2 separate regions of the Homo sapiens genome follow, and region 2 is linked to region 1. A link means that fine-mapping ties the variant in region 1 to the expression of a gene that starts in the linked region. Tissue or cell type: whole blood. Region 1 holds a variant in brackets; the other region holds the start of a gene. All regions are shown on one strand. Distances are from middle to middle.

Region 1 (8,105 bases):
TTTTTCCATCAATCCAGAATGTAGTGAAAGAAAAAAGGGAATCTGCATATATTTCTTTAAGCTCTGGGGAATTTTTTCCTATCGTTGTTGAATCACTGCTTCTCCTTGCTGTTAGGTCTCTCGGGCCTTTTCCCCCAAGTCTATCCCCACCCTCGTGACCTCTCCTCGTGAGTATTTATGGTCTATGTTCTGAGACATCTCTCCAAATTGACCTTTCTGGAATTTGACTATCACAGGAACCATCTCTGTAGTGTGTCTGTGACACTTGAGCTCTAGACTGTCCTTTCGGGGTTACAGTTGACTCTTCTTCAAAGACTCTTATTACTCACCCACCACTATCACTCTGGAAGCGCCTGGGCCACCCTCTGTGTGGTTATTTCTGCCTGTGTTGAACCAGGGGTGAGGGCACAGCTATGTGGAGGCTGCCATGCAGCGACACAGGAGACTCTGGGTGCCCCACAGCCCCTTCACTCTCCCAGCCTCGCTGGGCCTCTACTGGACCTGCTGCCTCAGGGTCTCCTGCCCATTCCCTGAGTCCCCCAAGGAGAAGAGAGTGCTCTCTGTCCACAGACCAGGTTCCGCCCACCTGTCAGCCCAGCAACTGCCTGGCTCAGCAGCAGTGCAGCCAGAGGCAAGACAGAGGAGAACAGGCCCAGGAAGTCATGAACCCTCCAAAATCTAAAATTAATTTTTTTTTTTGAGACAGGGTCACGCTCTGTCACCCAGGCTGAAGTGCAGCAGTGAGGTCACAGCTCACTGCAGCCTTGACCTCTCGGGCTCAAGCAATCCTCCCAGCTCACCCTCCCAAGTAGCTGGGACTATGGTGCACACCACCACACCCAGCAGATTTTTTTGTATTTTTTGTAGAGATGGGGTTTCACCATGTTACCCAGTCTAGTAGTGAACTCAGCTTAAGCAATCTGCCCGCCTCAGCCTCCCAAAGTGATGGAATTACAGACACCATACCTGGCCTAAAATTAATTTTTAATTACTCAAAAATAATATTGTCTCCTTAAGTGAACATGAATTTAAAAATACTTTAGAGAAAAATGTTACGTTAAAAGTACAGTTAACCCTCACTATCTGTGGGAGATGTGTTCCAGGACCCCCCAGATACTAAAATCCACAGATGTTCAAGTCCCTGGTATAGTGTTTGCATATAGTCTACCCACATCCTCCTGTATGCTTTAAATCATCTCTAGACTACTTATAATACCTAATACAAGGTAAATGCTATGGTAATAATTGTTATACTATATTGTCTATATACTATATCGTCTATATTGTTATACTATACTAATAGTTGTTATACTATATACTATATTGTTTATCCTATACTGTTATATTATATTAGGGAATAATGACAAGGAAAAGTCTGTTCATATTCAGTACAGGCACAACCATCCATTTTTGTCCCAAATATTGTCAAACTATGGTTGGTTGGATTTACGAACGTGGAACCCATGGATACGGAGGGCCAAGTGTTCTCATTTACCAGGTAGTAAAGAGCTACTTACACTGACCTAAGTCTAGACTGGCAACAAGAATGACTCTTTATCGTTATCCTGTAACAGATAAGCTAACTGAGGCAAAAGTGGTAAAGCAAACTGCCCATGACCACTCAGATGGGAAGGGCAGTCTGGGTTTAAACCCAGGCCATTTTTCTCCTGCTACTGGAACACTACTGCAATACAAATTTACTCATTCTTCTATTACCTGAAGCAAGAATTGAACACACTATGTAAATCAGAGAAATAAGAACTACTAAAGAACAAATGAAGAAAACAAAATGAAGGAATTTTAAAGTTGGAAGGGACAGTGACAAAAAGCTTAGACAAAAAGCTCCCTGGGCCAGGGTTCTCCTGATATGTAACAAGACACACAGACCAGACCATGTGCAAGTCCCCTCAGCACTAACGTCTGTAAAATGTGTCAAACACGAGGACTCAAAACTTCGCCACCTTTCCTTCTATGTCAGGTTAGGATCACATGTTGGTGATCACAGCCACAAGAAACACAGCAGAATCAATTTTTTGAGAAAAACCGTAAGATAAAAAGACAGTGTCTGTATTTATTAAAGGGTGGTTTTACACATGAATACTTTTAAATTATCCACACCAATTTCATTGGGTATGGATGATGGAAGCATACCACTAAATAAGCTATAAAAAGCATCCAGCCTCAAATTCGTTTAAAAAAAAAGACTGTTAAAATTAAAGCAGAATAAAATGAATTGATATTCATTTATCAATACCTGATAACAAAAGAGAGGCCATTTTCAGGGAGTACTCTTTCCCTTCAAGGTTTAATGTTGGCACCTACATTATTTTACTATTAACGTTGCCTGCAAGTAGAGGCACAATTAATATTGGCAAGTAATTTGCTTGTAATATGATTAGTGGGGAAAATTCATGAGGTAACACAAACCTTAAGAAATATATTATTTATATTTGTAATTTATTTCAAATTACAAATTTATTACTATCGATACAATTTATGAAAGCAATAAATTTAACATACTTGACATTTAAATGCACCAGTGCATGGGCAAATGCATGTTGTTTCTCCTCAGAAAATGTCCAGTTTACAATATGCTATATCGGATGAGGCAATTAAAATGCAATGAGATGCCGATTTTTATTTAGCACCCAAAAGACAGACCAGTCAACAGAATACTAGCCCTGAAAACTAGATTAGTTGTTAAGAAAACGTGCACTTTTAAATCAAGCTCCACTGCCTAAAATATTAATTGGAGCAAGGGGTTCCCAGATTCTTAAAGATGTTTACTTGCTTTAATGTCTCTAGTCCAACGTTAAATCAATAATATTTTAAAATACAGTCTTAAATCTTAATTGTTTATCTTCCGTTAGATTGATTTTTCTTGTTTCATCAATTTGTCAGATTGATTTTTTTAGACACTGGTTTTTCTATAGTTTGCTTCTTGCATATTTAAGTAAGAAGCCAATATTTCACAGTCCTGACCTATTTATTTTCTAGGATGTTTCCTTCTTAAAGGGAGGAGCTCTTTTTTTCATCTGTGTATCATCTTAGTAGAGGGGATGGCATGCAGGTGAATAATGGAGAAACAAAACGCTCCATCCCCAGTGTTCTGTTCATGTCCTTTTCCACATTGTAAGTTCTGAATTTCTCAGGTCTTTTCTTCTCTCAATGTAACTAACATAATTCAAGTAGTTAGCCTGAAACTAAGTATAAGTGGAAATGGAAGGCATTCCTAGTGAGAAACCAATGTTCCTCTTCCCTTTCATCTTCAGAATAGTATACACTATTCTATATCCAAATAAGCCTTCCTTGGCAACATTATTTCTTTTTTTCTTTTTTTTTTTTTTTTGAGATGGAGTTTCACTCTTAATGCCCAGGCTGGAGTGCAATGGCTCGATCTGGGCTCACCGCAACCTCTGCCTTCCGGGTTCAAGTGATTCTCCTGCCTCAGCCTCCCAAGTAGCTGAGATTACAGGCATGTGCCACCATACCCAGCTAATTTTTGTACTTTTAGTAGAGACGGGGTTTCTCCATGTTGGTCAGGCTGGACTTGAACTCCCGACCTCAGGTGATCTGCCTGCCTCAGCCTCCCAAAGTGCTGGGATTACAGGCATAAGCCACTGTGCCCGGCCAACATTATTTCTAATAAAGAAAAATGCTTAGACTTTTGAGGTTGTTACTACATCCTGTGAAAACAATTTAACATTCTTACAGTTGGTAATTCTGGTCATCTTGTTTAATATTTGTGCCTGATGGACCATTTACATCATTGCCACTTATTTTCTGAAATGGACAAGTGCTCCTCTGTCATCCCCAAATCAGACCACTGCCCTAAAAACAAGCTCCTAAGGCCAATAGTCTATTGGGTTTCCTCTTCTTCTTCTTCTTTTTTTTTTGAGACGGAGCCCTGCTCTGTCACCCAGGCTGGAATGCAGTGGTGTGATCT[T/C]GGCTCACTGCAAGTTCCGCCTCCCGGGTTCATGCCATTCTCCTGCCTCAGCCTCCCGAGCAGCTGGGACTACAGGCGCCCGCCACCATGCCCGGCTAATTTTTTATATTTTTAGTAGAGACGGGGTTTCACCGTGTTAGCCAGGATGGTCTCGATCTCCTGACCTCGTGATCCACCTGCCTTGGCCTCCCAAAGTGCTGAGAGGGTTTCTTCTTAAAATATAAAGTTGCAAAGTCTAACCTGATTAAAACTAGCATAGTGGACACTCAATCATTTTTAGAATAAAGTACATAATTGAATGCATTTCATTCACTCAGTCGCTAGGAGCCCAAACCCACCCACCTGCTTTAGTGCCCAGTTCAACGTCCCATCACCGTGGGGTGCTGGAAGGTCACTGGGGAAGGAGGGGACTTTCTCCAGGTTTCCGTAAGGCCCCCCTTTCTCCAGCAGACTCTGACAGCACAAGCAGCACACCAGACAACTACCCCACAAGCCCCCACCCCATCCGAGCCACACACAGGAGCCTGTGGGACTCAAGAGAGTAGGCTTTCCAGCTCCGGCTCCAGCAGCTCCCCAGCACCTCCCCTGCGATGGCTCCACATCCCCCCGGCCCACCACCCACCCAGGTGAGTGGACGTCCTCAGGTCCCACAGAAGGCCGCTAACAATTTCTTCCACGTAGGAAGCCAGGTCTCCCTGTCCGGGTGGGGGCTCCTTCCTTGGCGGCGCTCACCTAGGGTTGGAGGTGTTCTCTTCATCTGCTAGTCCTGTATTCTCTAGAGTTCTCTTTAACTCTCACTAGCCAATAACCCATCGTGCCAACTCCCTATAAAAATCCCTGACACTTGGCTGGGCACGGTGGCTCACCCCTGTAATCCCAGCACTTTGGGAGGCCGAGGCGGGCGGATCACTTGAGGCCAGGAGTTCAAGACCAGCCTGGCCAACATGGTGAAACTCCGTCTCTACTAAAAATACAAAAATTAGCCGGGCATGGTGGCGCATGCCTGTAATCCCAGCTACTCGGGAGGCTGATGCACAAGAATTACTTGAACCTGGGAGGCAAAGGTTGCAGTGAGCCAAGATCGCACCACTGCACTACAGCCTGCATAACAGAGGGAGACTCTTGTCTCAAAAACAAACAAAAAAATCCCTGACACTGAGCTTTCCCTATCCGAATCACTGCGTGGTTTTGGTCTTCTCCTGGAACCTGACAAACACACAGAAAAACATTGTTTTTTGTTTGTTTGCTTTTGAGACAAGTCTTGCTCTGTTGCCAAGACTGGAGTGCGGTGGCGCAATCTCAACCCACTGCAACCTCCACCTCAAGCAATCCTCCCACCTCAGCTGTCCATGTAGCTGGGACTATAGGCACATGCTACCACACCTGTCTAATATTTGTATTTTTTGTAGAGATGAGGTCTCGCTGTGTTGCTCAAACTGGTCTTGAACCCCTGAGCTCAAGCAATCCACCCACCTTAGCCTCCCATAGTGTTGGGATTACAGACGCGAGCCACCATGCCCAGCCAACATTGTTATCTCAGTACCTGACAAAGTGGAGTAAAGAGAGACCCTTTATTAAAATAAAAGGGTCAATTAATCAAGAACATACAGCAGTTCTAAACTTATATGCACCTAATAACAGGGCCATAAAATATATAATGCAAAAGCAGTCCTAAATATGATACTTGGACAAATTCACAAGCATAATGAGAAATTTAACACAAGTCTCTGTAGAATAAGTAACAAAAAATCAGTAAAAACATAGAAAAGTTGAGGTAACACAATTAACGAACGTGAACTGATCAGGTGGCACTCCACCTCTCTAAAACACACACTCCTATGCACAAGCACTCACAAATGCTGTGTGTGAGCCACAGAGCCAGTCTCAGACGTACAATCAAAAAAGACAAAAAAGAAATGGTGTTAAAAGCCACAGTAAACATAAACCTCATATCAAGTATAAAACCACACACACTTTGCTCTTCATCCGGACAATGCCCAAAATTATACTGAGGTATTGGGGTGGGCTGATACCTTCAAACAGGGAGAGAGGGACCATGTTCAGGAGGTGTATTCCTCGATTTAGGTGGTGACTGAATTTTTTTTTTTTTAAGACAGGGTCTCACTCTGTCACCCAGGCTGGAATGCAGTGACGTGATCTCGGCTCACTGCAGCATCAACCTCCTGGGCTCAAGTGATCCTCCCACCTCAGCCTCTTGGGTAGCTGGGACCACAGGTGAGTGCCACAATATCCAACTAATTTCTATATTTTTTGTAGAGACAGGGTTTTGCCACATTGCCCAGGCTGGTTGCGAACTCCTAGACTCAAGCAATTCACCTGCCTTGGCCTCCCAAAGTGCTGGGATTACAGCTGTAAGCCACCGCACCTGGCTTGTGAGTGCATTTTATAACAATTAATTCAGTGGTACACATATTATTTACATTCTTTTCCATATGTATATCTCAATGAGTAAATTCTATTCTATTAAAATCAATAAACAAAAACCACAAGCCATTTTGTTAATAAATTTAAAAATCTAGACCAATGCAAGAAATTGTAAATTACCAAAATTTATTCAGGCAGTAATAGGAAATCAGACCCAACTACTAACATAGAAGAAACAGGGAAAAGTCATCCCAGATTTCTGGGGGTATGTTGTTCCACAGCATCAGATGTGATTTAAACTGCTCCACAACACTGAAAAGGGAGAAGTTACCAACTAATGCTGAGAGCAAAACTGGTAGAGGTCCTACTGAAAAAACAAAAACAAAACACTACAAAACAAAACAACCAACAACCATTTAATCTTATTTCAAACCTAATGCAAACATTCTCAAATAAAATATTAGCAAACAGAATTCAAAAATGCAGCTGTTTTGATAGAATGAAATATCCAAGACCTGTGAGACAACTGTAAAAGGTGTTAACATGTATAATAAGAATTTCAGAAGAGAGAAAGGAACAGAAGAAATATTCAGACAATAATAACTGAGAATTTATCCAGGAAGCTCATAGAATACTGAATAGAATAAATGCCAAAAAAAAAAAAAAAAAAGAAAAGAAAACTACACCTAGGCATATCATATTCAACCTACAGAAAAATCAAACAAAGAAAAAGTATTGAAAGAAACCAGATAGGGAAAAATACACCTTATCTACTGAGGAGCAAAAAAGAATTATATCCTATTTCTCAGATACTACACGAGCCAAGAAGAGAGTATAGCGAAATGTTTAAAGTACAGAGAGTGGCCGGGCACGGGGAGTAATCCCAGCAATTTGAGAAGCTGAGGCGAGTAGATCACTTGAGATCAAGAATTCGAGACCAGCCTGGGCAACATGGTGAAGCCCTGTCTCCACTAATACAAAAATGAGCTGGGTGTGGCGGCGATGTGCCTGTATACCAGCTACTCAGCAGGCTGAGGTACAAGAATCGTTTGAACTTAGGAGGCAGAGGTTGCAGTGAACTGAGATCACACCACTGCGTTCCACCCTAGGCAACAGAGCAAGACTCTGTCTCAAAAAATAATAATAATAAATTAAATAAAGTACAGAGAGAAAAAAATTCATCAACTAGAATTATAAACTACATAACATTATCCCTGCAAAGAAATAAAGTAGAAGTAAAAGACTCTCTGACAAACCAAAATTAAGAGAATTAGTTGCCAGTAGACATGCCTTGAAAGAAGCATTAAAAGAAGTTCTCTGGAGGGAAGGAAAAGAATATAGGTCAGAATTTGGATCAACACAAACAAAGGAGAAGCATCAAAGAAGGAGTAAGTGAAGGTAAATAAAAACTTTTATTTTTCTTATTCTTAAATGACCTAAGATGTAGTTTGTTCAAAATAATAATAGCAACAATATATTCAATTATGTATGCTTATGTCTGCTTATACCTTAGCAAAATGAATGACAGCAATGATACAAGGAACGAGAGGCAAGGATTAGGATTATTTTGTTATTATATACCACCCTACCTGCAAAGTGGTATAGTGTCATCTGAAAGCAAACGTGGATTAGTTATAAATGAAAACTCCAACTCTAAAGCAACCACTAAGAAAGATAAAAACAAATAAAAATTCCAACTCTAAAGAAACCACTAAGAAAGGTTTAAAAAAAAAAAAGTATAACTGATATGCTAGGAAAGAAAACGGCATCATAA
Region 2 (8,102 bases), 190 kb after region 1:
CCATAGCAGCCATACAATCAGCATTTATTGGCAATAGTAAAAGCAGGATAGAGTCAGACTTTATCCTATGAAGAGATAATATTTTCAAATAAATAAAAATAGTAATGAAAAATTGCCCTTATTAATCTCTATAAAAACTCTTCAAGAATCTTCCTCACAGCCCTGAGCATGGTGGCATGCAACTGTAATCCCAGCTACTTGGGAGACTCACGTAGGTGGTTCGCTTGAGCCCAAGAGTTGAGCCCAAGAGTTCAAGCCTGGGGAACACAGCGAGAACCGCCTCTCTTTAAAAAACAAAAAAGGCTGGGCGCGGTGGTTCATGCCTGTAATCCCAGCACTTTGGGAGGCCAAGGCTGGTGGATCACCTGAGGTCAGGAGTTTGAGACCAGCCTGGCCAACATGGTGAAACCCTGTCTCTACTAAAAACACAAAAATTAGCCAGACGTGGTGACGGGCGCCTGTACTCCCAGCTACTTGGGAGGCTGAGGCAGGAGAGTCGCTTAAACCCGGGAGGCAGAGGTTGCGGTGAGCCGAGACCATGCCACTGCCCTTCATCCTGGGCAACAGAGTGAGACTCCGTCTCAAAAATAAATAAATAAATGAAATAATAAATAAATAAATCTTCTCTTCTTCACCCAGGGTAGTCTAATGGTCCAGGGCCCATTACCACAGGGTAGACACTTAAACAACAAAAAGCCCTGTCCTCAATTCATCCAGCCTGCCAGGCCTTTCCCCTAAGCAGTTGGAACATAACTGTTCATGGGAAAAGAAGTGAAGAATAACAACACTGTTTATATTAAAGCTGTAGGACCAAACTTACAGAATTATCACAGTTAAGTGAGAGCCATCTGTCACATCCTAATAGCCTCAATCAGGAACAGTACATATAGTTTCTCAAAGTATTAATACTCTTATCTCATTTCCATATCCAGCTTCAGTTTTTACTCAGTAAGAAGAAAAGCTGTCAGTGAATATATACAAAGGTGAGGTGAGGAAATTAGTATCTCCTTAATTCATGTTTTCCTATGTTTCCACTCTGCCATGAATTCACGGTTGTCAACGACACACTATGAAAACAAGTACAGCCTTTGGGATGTACAGATACATCTTGTTCAAGGCAAAATACCAGTCCAAAGTTCAGAAACCCCAAGCACCAATGTATGTATGGTAAAAATCAAGGTACTAGTAATATTGGCCAGGCATGGTGGCTCACACCTGTAATCCCCACACTTTAGGAAGTCTAAGTGGGAGGATGCCTCGAGGCCAAAAGTTTGAGACCAGCCTGGACAACGCGGTAAGAACTCATCTCTAGAAAAAAAAAAAAACAAAAACAAACCCAAAGTGCAAGTAATACTGAAATCTTAACTTTTCTTATTCATAGTTTCTTCTATTATTGATGTGCTTTGACCACCCCCACCACCCCTGCCGCGCAGCAGAATTTCAGGCACACTTCGAGACCATGCAACCTGCTGGTTTTATTATGAAAATAAAGTATATTACACTTTTAATAAATATCACAAAATAGATACATAAGTATAATTTAAAAGATATTTTTAAAATCTCTCTAAAACTGTCAACATAATCACTGTCAAGTTTCATGTGAATCCTTCAAGAAGCGTCTTAAGCATCCTAGGCACACTGAAGTTTACACATGTGGGATTATGAGCTCAAGTACAAATTTGGAATAAACAAGTAAAACATTCTGGAGAAAATATAAATTCTTCATGAGGTGAACACCACAGTTCATCAGTTTAAGTCACACAGATTAAAAACTTGAAAAGAATCTTTGGCTAAATTACTTTTGTATTTTTTTTTTTTTTAAAGAATTTCAGGCTGGGCGCAGTGGCTCACACCTGTAATCCCAGCACTTTAGGAGGCTGAGGCGGGTGGATCACGAGGTCAAGAGATCGAGACCATCCTGGCCAACATGGTGAAACCCAGTCTCTACTAAAAATACAAAAATTAACTGGGTGTGGTGGTGTGCGCCTGTAGTCCCAGCTATTCGGGAGGCTGAGGCAGGAGAATGGCTTGAACCCGGGAGGCGGAGGTTGCAGTGAGTTGAGATGGTGCCACTGCACTTCAGCCTGGCAACAGAGCGAGATTCCGTCTCAAAAAAAAAAAAAAAAATTTCAGTTCTTCAATAGGGCAGCAATTTCATCTGTACAGTCTGTGTGGCCGGGCGCGGTGGCTCACGCCTGTAATCCCTGCACTTGGGGAGGCCAAGGCAGGCGGAACACAAGGTCAGGAGTTTGAGACCAGCCTGGCCAACATGGTGAAACCCTGTTTCTACTAAAAATACAAAGATTAGCTGGGCGTGATGGTGCACGCCTGTAATCCCAGCTACTCGGGAGGCTGAGGCAGGAGAATCTTTTGAACCCTGGAGGCGGAGGTTGTAGTGAGCCGAGATCACGCCATTGCACTCCAGCCTGGGCAACAGGGAGAGGCTCTGTCTCAAAAAAAAAAAAAAAAGAAAAGAAAAAGAAAATCTGTGTTTCACAAAGATTTTTAACAAGCAAATTTGATATTAGCCAATAACCAAGTATCTATGAAAGTCAGCATCATCACTTCCTGCAAATTTCAGCACTGATAACATTGCTATGTTATCAATATAACATAGCAATGGATGCTAATGGACTCTGTTTTTAGCTACTTTTTAGTATTATGCATCTTAGTGTAATATAGACACAAAACGTCACTTTAAAGTCCTTTTCCATTTCCAAAGTGCACCTCCTCTGTTCTTAGTTTTCCCCACCTCGGTTCCTCTTAACTTCCTTTTTCTACACACCCCTCGGTTTTTCCCGCCGCTAGCTAAAAGCTGCACCATGCCAGTTACCTTGGTTCTCCAAATATGACTCCCTCATGCTCACCACGCATCGGCAGAACTGTACATTCCCAAGCTCCTTACATTATATTCTTACTCCAGTTGCAATATGACGTCACAAAGTAGCATCTACTACCTTCTTCTTGTCTTGGGCACGCCTCCTTTCTAATTCTTGTTTGCCATCTGTGTCATGCCTTACTTCTCAGGTGTCTCATGACTGGAAACAGGGACTTTTCTCCTCTAAGAGAAAATGACCCTTCCGAAACCCACTGCTGGTCACCTTCACCCCAAAGTTTATATTAAGCCTAATGGAAGAATCATTAAAATCCTTTCTTGCAGTGTGAAACTGTGAAGCCAAGTCATGGCTAAGAAAGAATTAGGGAATGACAAGAAAAAGATTTGAAGCCAACTCTTCGTGTCTATAGTCCATAAATATACGAGGTAGAGAACTGCCGGGTTAAAAATAAAATAATACCATGACTCTTGTTATTGCTGCAACTCTTCCAAAACTTCCTGCCACACACACACACATTCACACTGGATTCAGGTCGATCCCATATAAAAATGCTCAGTCTCACAATTATACTTGCAAAAAAACTGAAACAATCTTTCAATTATCTAATATCTCCACATCTTTCGAGAGACACTTACTGCCCTTGAAATGCGTCAGAAACAACCAAGACACGAGTGCGTCTTCTCCCGGTAGAAGAAAAAGTTAACTTCTCCCCCACCAGCTGTCATTACGTTTTTTAAAAAACAGAGAGAAGGAAAAGCTGAAGCCACCCGGAGCATTTCCAGGCCGGCAGGGCTTTGGGAATGCGCACGAGAATCGCGCTGGGCGCTCTGAGAGCAGAACCGGCCGCTCAGGCCCCTAAGGAGACCCCGCGGGCGGCACCAGGAGGAAGCGCGCGCTCCGGGCAGGGCCGCGGCCGAAGAGGGGGCGCCAAGCCCGGTACCTGCCGCTGGCGCTCGGGGTCTGCAGGCCGGGGGAGGGAAGCGGGCTTTGTGAAGAGGGGTCTCCGAGAAAGCCGCGCGGGACGGCGAGGGGAGGCTTCACGAGGGCAGACGCGCCCCGGACCCGGAGCCTGGGCGGGCGGGGAAGCGGAGAAGGGGACGCCCGACTTGGACGGAGGGAGGGCACGGAGCACTCAGGACTAGGGCGGGAGCGGCGAGCAGCGGGCGGCGGCCCCAGGCGGACAGGTTCGCAGGGAGTGGGCCGGAGGCCGGGGCGGGGCTGGGGTCTGCACTCGCCCTAGCGGGCAGGTCGCCAGCAGGCTGGGAGTCGGGGCCGGGGGGCGGGGCGGGGTCTGCACTCACCTAGGTTGGCAGGTCGCAGGAACCGGCCCGGGGGCCGGGGCTGGGGTCTGCACTCGCCCAGGCGGAAGGGAAGCGCCTGCCTGGACCGGGGTGGGTGGGGGACTACGAAGGCGGGAGCCGGGGCAGGGCTGGGGTCTGCACTCACCCAGGCGGCAGGTCGCGGGGAGGGGAGTGCCTGCCTGGACGAGGGGAGATCGGGACTGGTGGTCAGGGGTCGGGACGGGCAGGGGTCTGCACTCACCCAGGCGGGCAGGTCGCAGGCGCGCACCCCCAGGCGCACGACGCGCTCCTCGTCTTCCAGCAGCGCCAGCGCGCGGCACAGGCGCAGGGCCTTGAGGCCGCGGCTGCGGCGACACCAGGCGAGCAGCGCGAGCGCGAGGAGAACCCAGCTGAAGCTGAGCCCCAGGTAGCCCAGCGCGTACACGGGCAGCAGCAGCGCGAAGCTCCGCGCCAGCTGCGCCAGCAGCCCGGGCAGCTCCACGCTCAGCACGCCCCCGGGGTTCTCAGGCGCCGCGCGGCCCCCAGCCCCGCCGGCGCCCGCCTCCGGGCCCTCGCCCCGGGCGCCGCTCATCGCCCCGCAGTGCCGCGCTGCCCTCCCGGCCGAGGCGGGCTGGGTGCTCGCGCTGATCCCGGGCGGCTCAGCCCCGCGCCAGCGCCCCTCTGAGGGGACGCGGCTCCGCCGCACGCCCGCCTCCGCCCGGGACGGTGGCGTCATCACGCGGGGCGGGAGCGGCGTGGGCCTGGGGCTGGCACGTCACCGGGAGCGGGCGGGGTGGATACTGACGTCATCGCGCGGGGCGGGCCGTGGGCCGGGTCGGAGACTACTGGAGTGGGCCGGGCAGGCGCACGACGTCATCACGCGAGCGTTGTGTCTCGGCTGGCGGGAGCCGGGGACGGGAAAGGAGAGTGCTCGGTGCGTGGGCTGGGCGTGCCTGCGTCCCCTCGAGCCCCACGGGGCACCCTCCCCACTTGCCTGTGGCCTCGGAGCCCGCGGGCGGTTTTGGCTCGGCGTCGCGCCCCGAGGCGGCTTCCGGGTGCGTGGCTGCGCTCGCCGAGGCCCGGGAAGTTGCCGTCGTCAAACCCAAAGGCTGACCGCCTCTGGGAGCTGCTGGCAAACGTGGGGGTGCGCGGCCGCTGAGCGCAGCCGGGGTGGCGGTGGGATGAGAGGGCGGCGTCCCTGTTTGCGGTCATTTTGCGGCCAGGAGGACGGGTGAGAGGGCGCCGCCCGCCGGAGGTCGGACGGGCGCCGCTGGCGGGAGTCCTCCGGTATTTTTCGGTGTGAGGTTGCCTAGCCAGTGTGCAAGGTTGTGGCTTTTGCGGAGTCTCTCGGGACGGTCTTGTTATCGGGCATTCCGGCGTGAGAACGCTGCCTCTGGGGCCCTTCCCACCCTGCTTGTCAGGGTTTTAAACACAAACGACTCCGTTGTGACCTTGACAACTCTCACACAGTTCAGTTGGCTTTTAAGATGCCTTTAATCCCAAAAGTCCTCCCTGAGGGGTCTGGTAGTGCCGGGCAAAGACCACCGCAAGCGCCCAAGGGACGCTGTTGACACTCGGGAACTCCACCCCGGGCACCACGCAGCTTCGCCGAAGGTGTTAATATTGTGGCCAACTATGAATAGCTGTTTCAAACGACTAATTTTGGGCCTTTCCTGTGATTCCTGAGGTCACTTTTCAGTTAACTCAAAAACACAACTATTGATCACTTTACTTTCCAGTGAATTCAATCGAGTTAATTATATTTGTTCTGTAGTTTCTTTCAAGGAAACTCCAAGCCAAACAGTAGCAAAGAACATCCTACTTGACTGTTTTTGAGCATATTCAGTGAATTCCAAGGAAATTTTTACTGAATTTGTAACAGAGTAGGGCACTGGCAGGTACTGAATGAATAAACAAATGCCCAGAAGAAGCAGGGTCACCTTTACATAGGAATCTGTCTCCCCTCGTTCCTGCGTCTTCATAATTTTGTGTGCATATGTATGTGGAGATTATATCACATATGTAAAACATTGCAGAGTCTAAACTCTCAACTCCAGGCAAGGGCAGTAAACCCCAAGCAAGGAATGGAAGTGGTTTCCCTTTTCTTACTCTTCACAGTCCCTGGTTTGCTGCAGCAACAAATTATATTATGTAGATTGTAAATATGCAACCGGTTAATGCTCCTAACACCACCTTTCATTCAAAACTAAGCCTCAACACAAAAGCAAGTAATTGCTTTGTTGACACAGAAAGGAGCCTGAGCCTTTCTTTTGCAGCTTTCCTCTACTGGAAAATTGTAGGATCACATCCTACAAAGACTTGCATAAACATAAGCCACGTAAAAAATTCTGTAATCCCAGCACTTTGGGAGGCCGAGGAGGGCAGATCACGAGGTCAGGAGATCAAGACCATCCTGGCCAACATGGTGAAACCCCGTCTCTACTAAAAATAACAAAAAATTAGCCGCGCATGGCGGCGCGCACCTGGAGTCCCAGCTACTCGGGAGGCTGAGGCAGGAGAATTACTTGAACCCGGGAGGCGGAGGTTGCAGTGAGTCGAGATCGCACCACTGCACTCCAGCCTGGGCGACAGAGCAAGACTACGTCTCAAGAAAAAAAAAAAAATCCTGTGCCATGTGCCATCCAGTGGTTGACCCAAGGATGTAAACTAGATTGAAGAGAAGTTTCCATGTTGCATACCAGTCAGCCCAAGTGTCCTCAGCTTCCCTCTGTGTGAGCCCCGGGTTTCCAGCCCCTCCCTGTGGTTAATTGCCTGCAGAAAGCAGATCCTAAGGCTCTGCCACAGCTCAGTCTTACAGGTGTCTGGTCTGACTGCAGGTCCAGCTCGGCTCTTAGATTTTTGCTAATATTATACCCCTCAATCTCCTGTGACCTTTCATGACCCCTCCATCCTTTCCTTCTTGTAGACAAGGAGAAGTGCTGCTTTCTCTGGAGTGTCATTCCGAGTGCTCCGGTGCACAGCTGCGAAGTTCCAGCCTTCCTGGTTTCAGAGGAAAGTGCTATCTTGTGCTTAGGTTCAACTCTTCCTGCTTTTGGGTCCTCCCCCACACCTCTAAATACGTCTCGTTATGGAGGGTGGGAGCACGTGCTCTGCATCTCTTCAATTTGGAGGTTATACCAGCAAATTAAATATACTGGGGACAGTGAAAGCCAGGTTTCTTGCTGTTGGAGAAGGTAAAAACATGGAAGAGGGAAGGCTAAAAAGAACACTGAGGGATTGGATTGGAACTGGAAGTGGTAGTATGAACTCATTTTTTTAAAATATGTATATACAGATAGATATAAAGATAGCTGTATGTGTGTGCACACATGTGTAGGTATATGTGCATATAAACACAGAAATAGTTTCTAGTTCTGTCTGCTGAGTATCTAGATGCAATGGTACCCCAGTACCAGTGATCACAGCTAGCCCCCAGATCTTATCTTCTAAATAAGGTTTTCCAACAAAAGGAATCAGGGCTCTTTGGAGAAATGGTTAATTTCAGGGCTGGAGTGGAAGTACAAGATGATCCTGGAATAATTTTGTTGTTCAAGGAAGTGAAGAAGTGCTCAAAGATTGACAGGAGATCAAAGGACATGGAAAGTAGTTGGAGGGAGTTCTTGCTGGCGAAATCTAGGACAATTTGAGCAACAAAACAAAGAATGATATTGGCAGATTACCACTGAGTGAGCAAAATAGAAACGCATGAGTTGAGTCCACACTGATGTAGATCAACAAACCAGTGATGAATGCAGGGAAAATAATAGTGGAGAAGGGGAGGTTCTTCTTTACAGTAGAATGTGAACTCATAAATGGAGAAGGAATTATGAGAATGGAAATAACCATTTACCAATCACTGTAGTGGGGTTGTTGCAGGAGTGAGAATGGAAATAACCATTTACCAATCACTGTAGTGGGGTTGTTGCAGGAGTGAGCTATCAATGGAGGCTCAGGGTGGTAGGTGGAGATTTGATGAGGAATGAGA

What was found. PIP is the estimated chance that this variant, and not a neighbour inherited with it, causes the effect.
Region 2: ESYT2 starts here. The variant in region 1 is fine-mapped to the expression of ESYT2 in whole blood (TOPMed, PIP above 0.99).

The regions. Positions count from the first base shown.
Region 1 is chr7:158,633,070-158,641,174 of GRCh38, forward strand. All of the region lies in intron 27 of NCAPG2 (non-SMC condensin II complex subunit G2), which reads right to left. Among named protein-coding and RNA genes, the nearest start is that of MIR5707, 46 kb to the left of the region's middle. The variant T/C (reference allele first, on the strand shown) is at 3,947.
Region 2 is chr7:158,824,710-158,832,811 of GRCh38, forward strand. ESYT2 (extended synaptotagmin 2) reads right to left here and starts at 4,800. Exons shown (of 23, transcript NM_001367773.1): 1 at 4,380-4,800. The coding sequence starts at 4,709. RefSeq lists enhancers at 3,574-3,643, 5,654-5,763 and silencers at 3,764-3,963, 4,044-4,093, 4,184-4,373, 4,424-4,523, 4,614-5,343.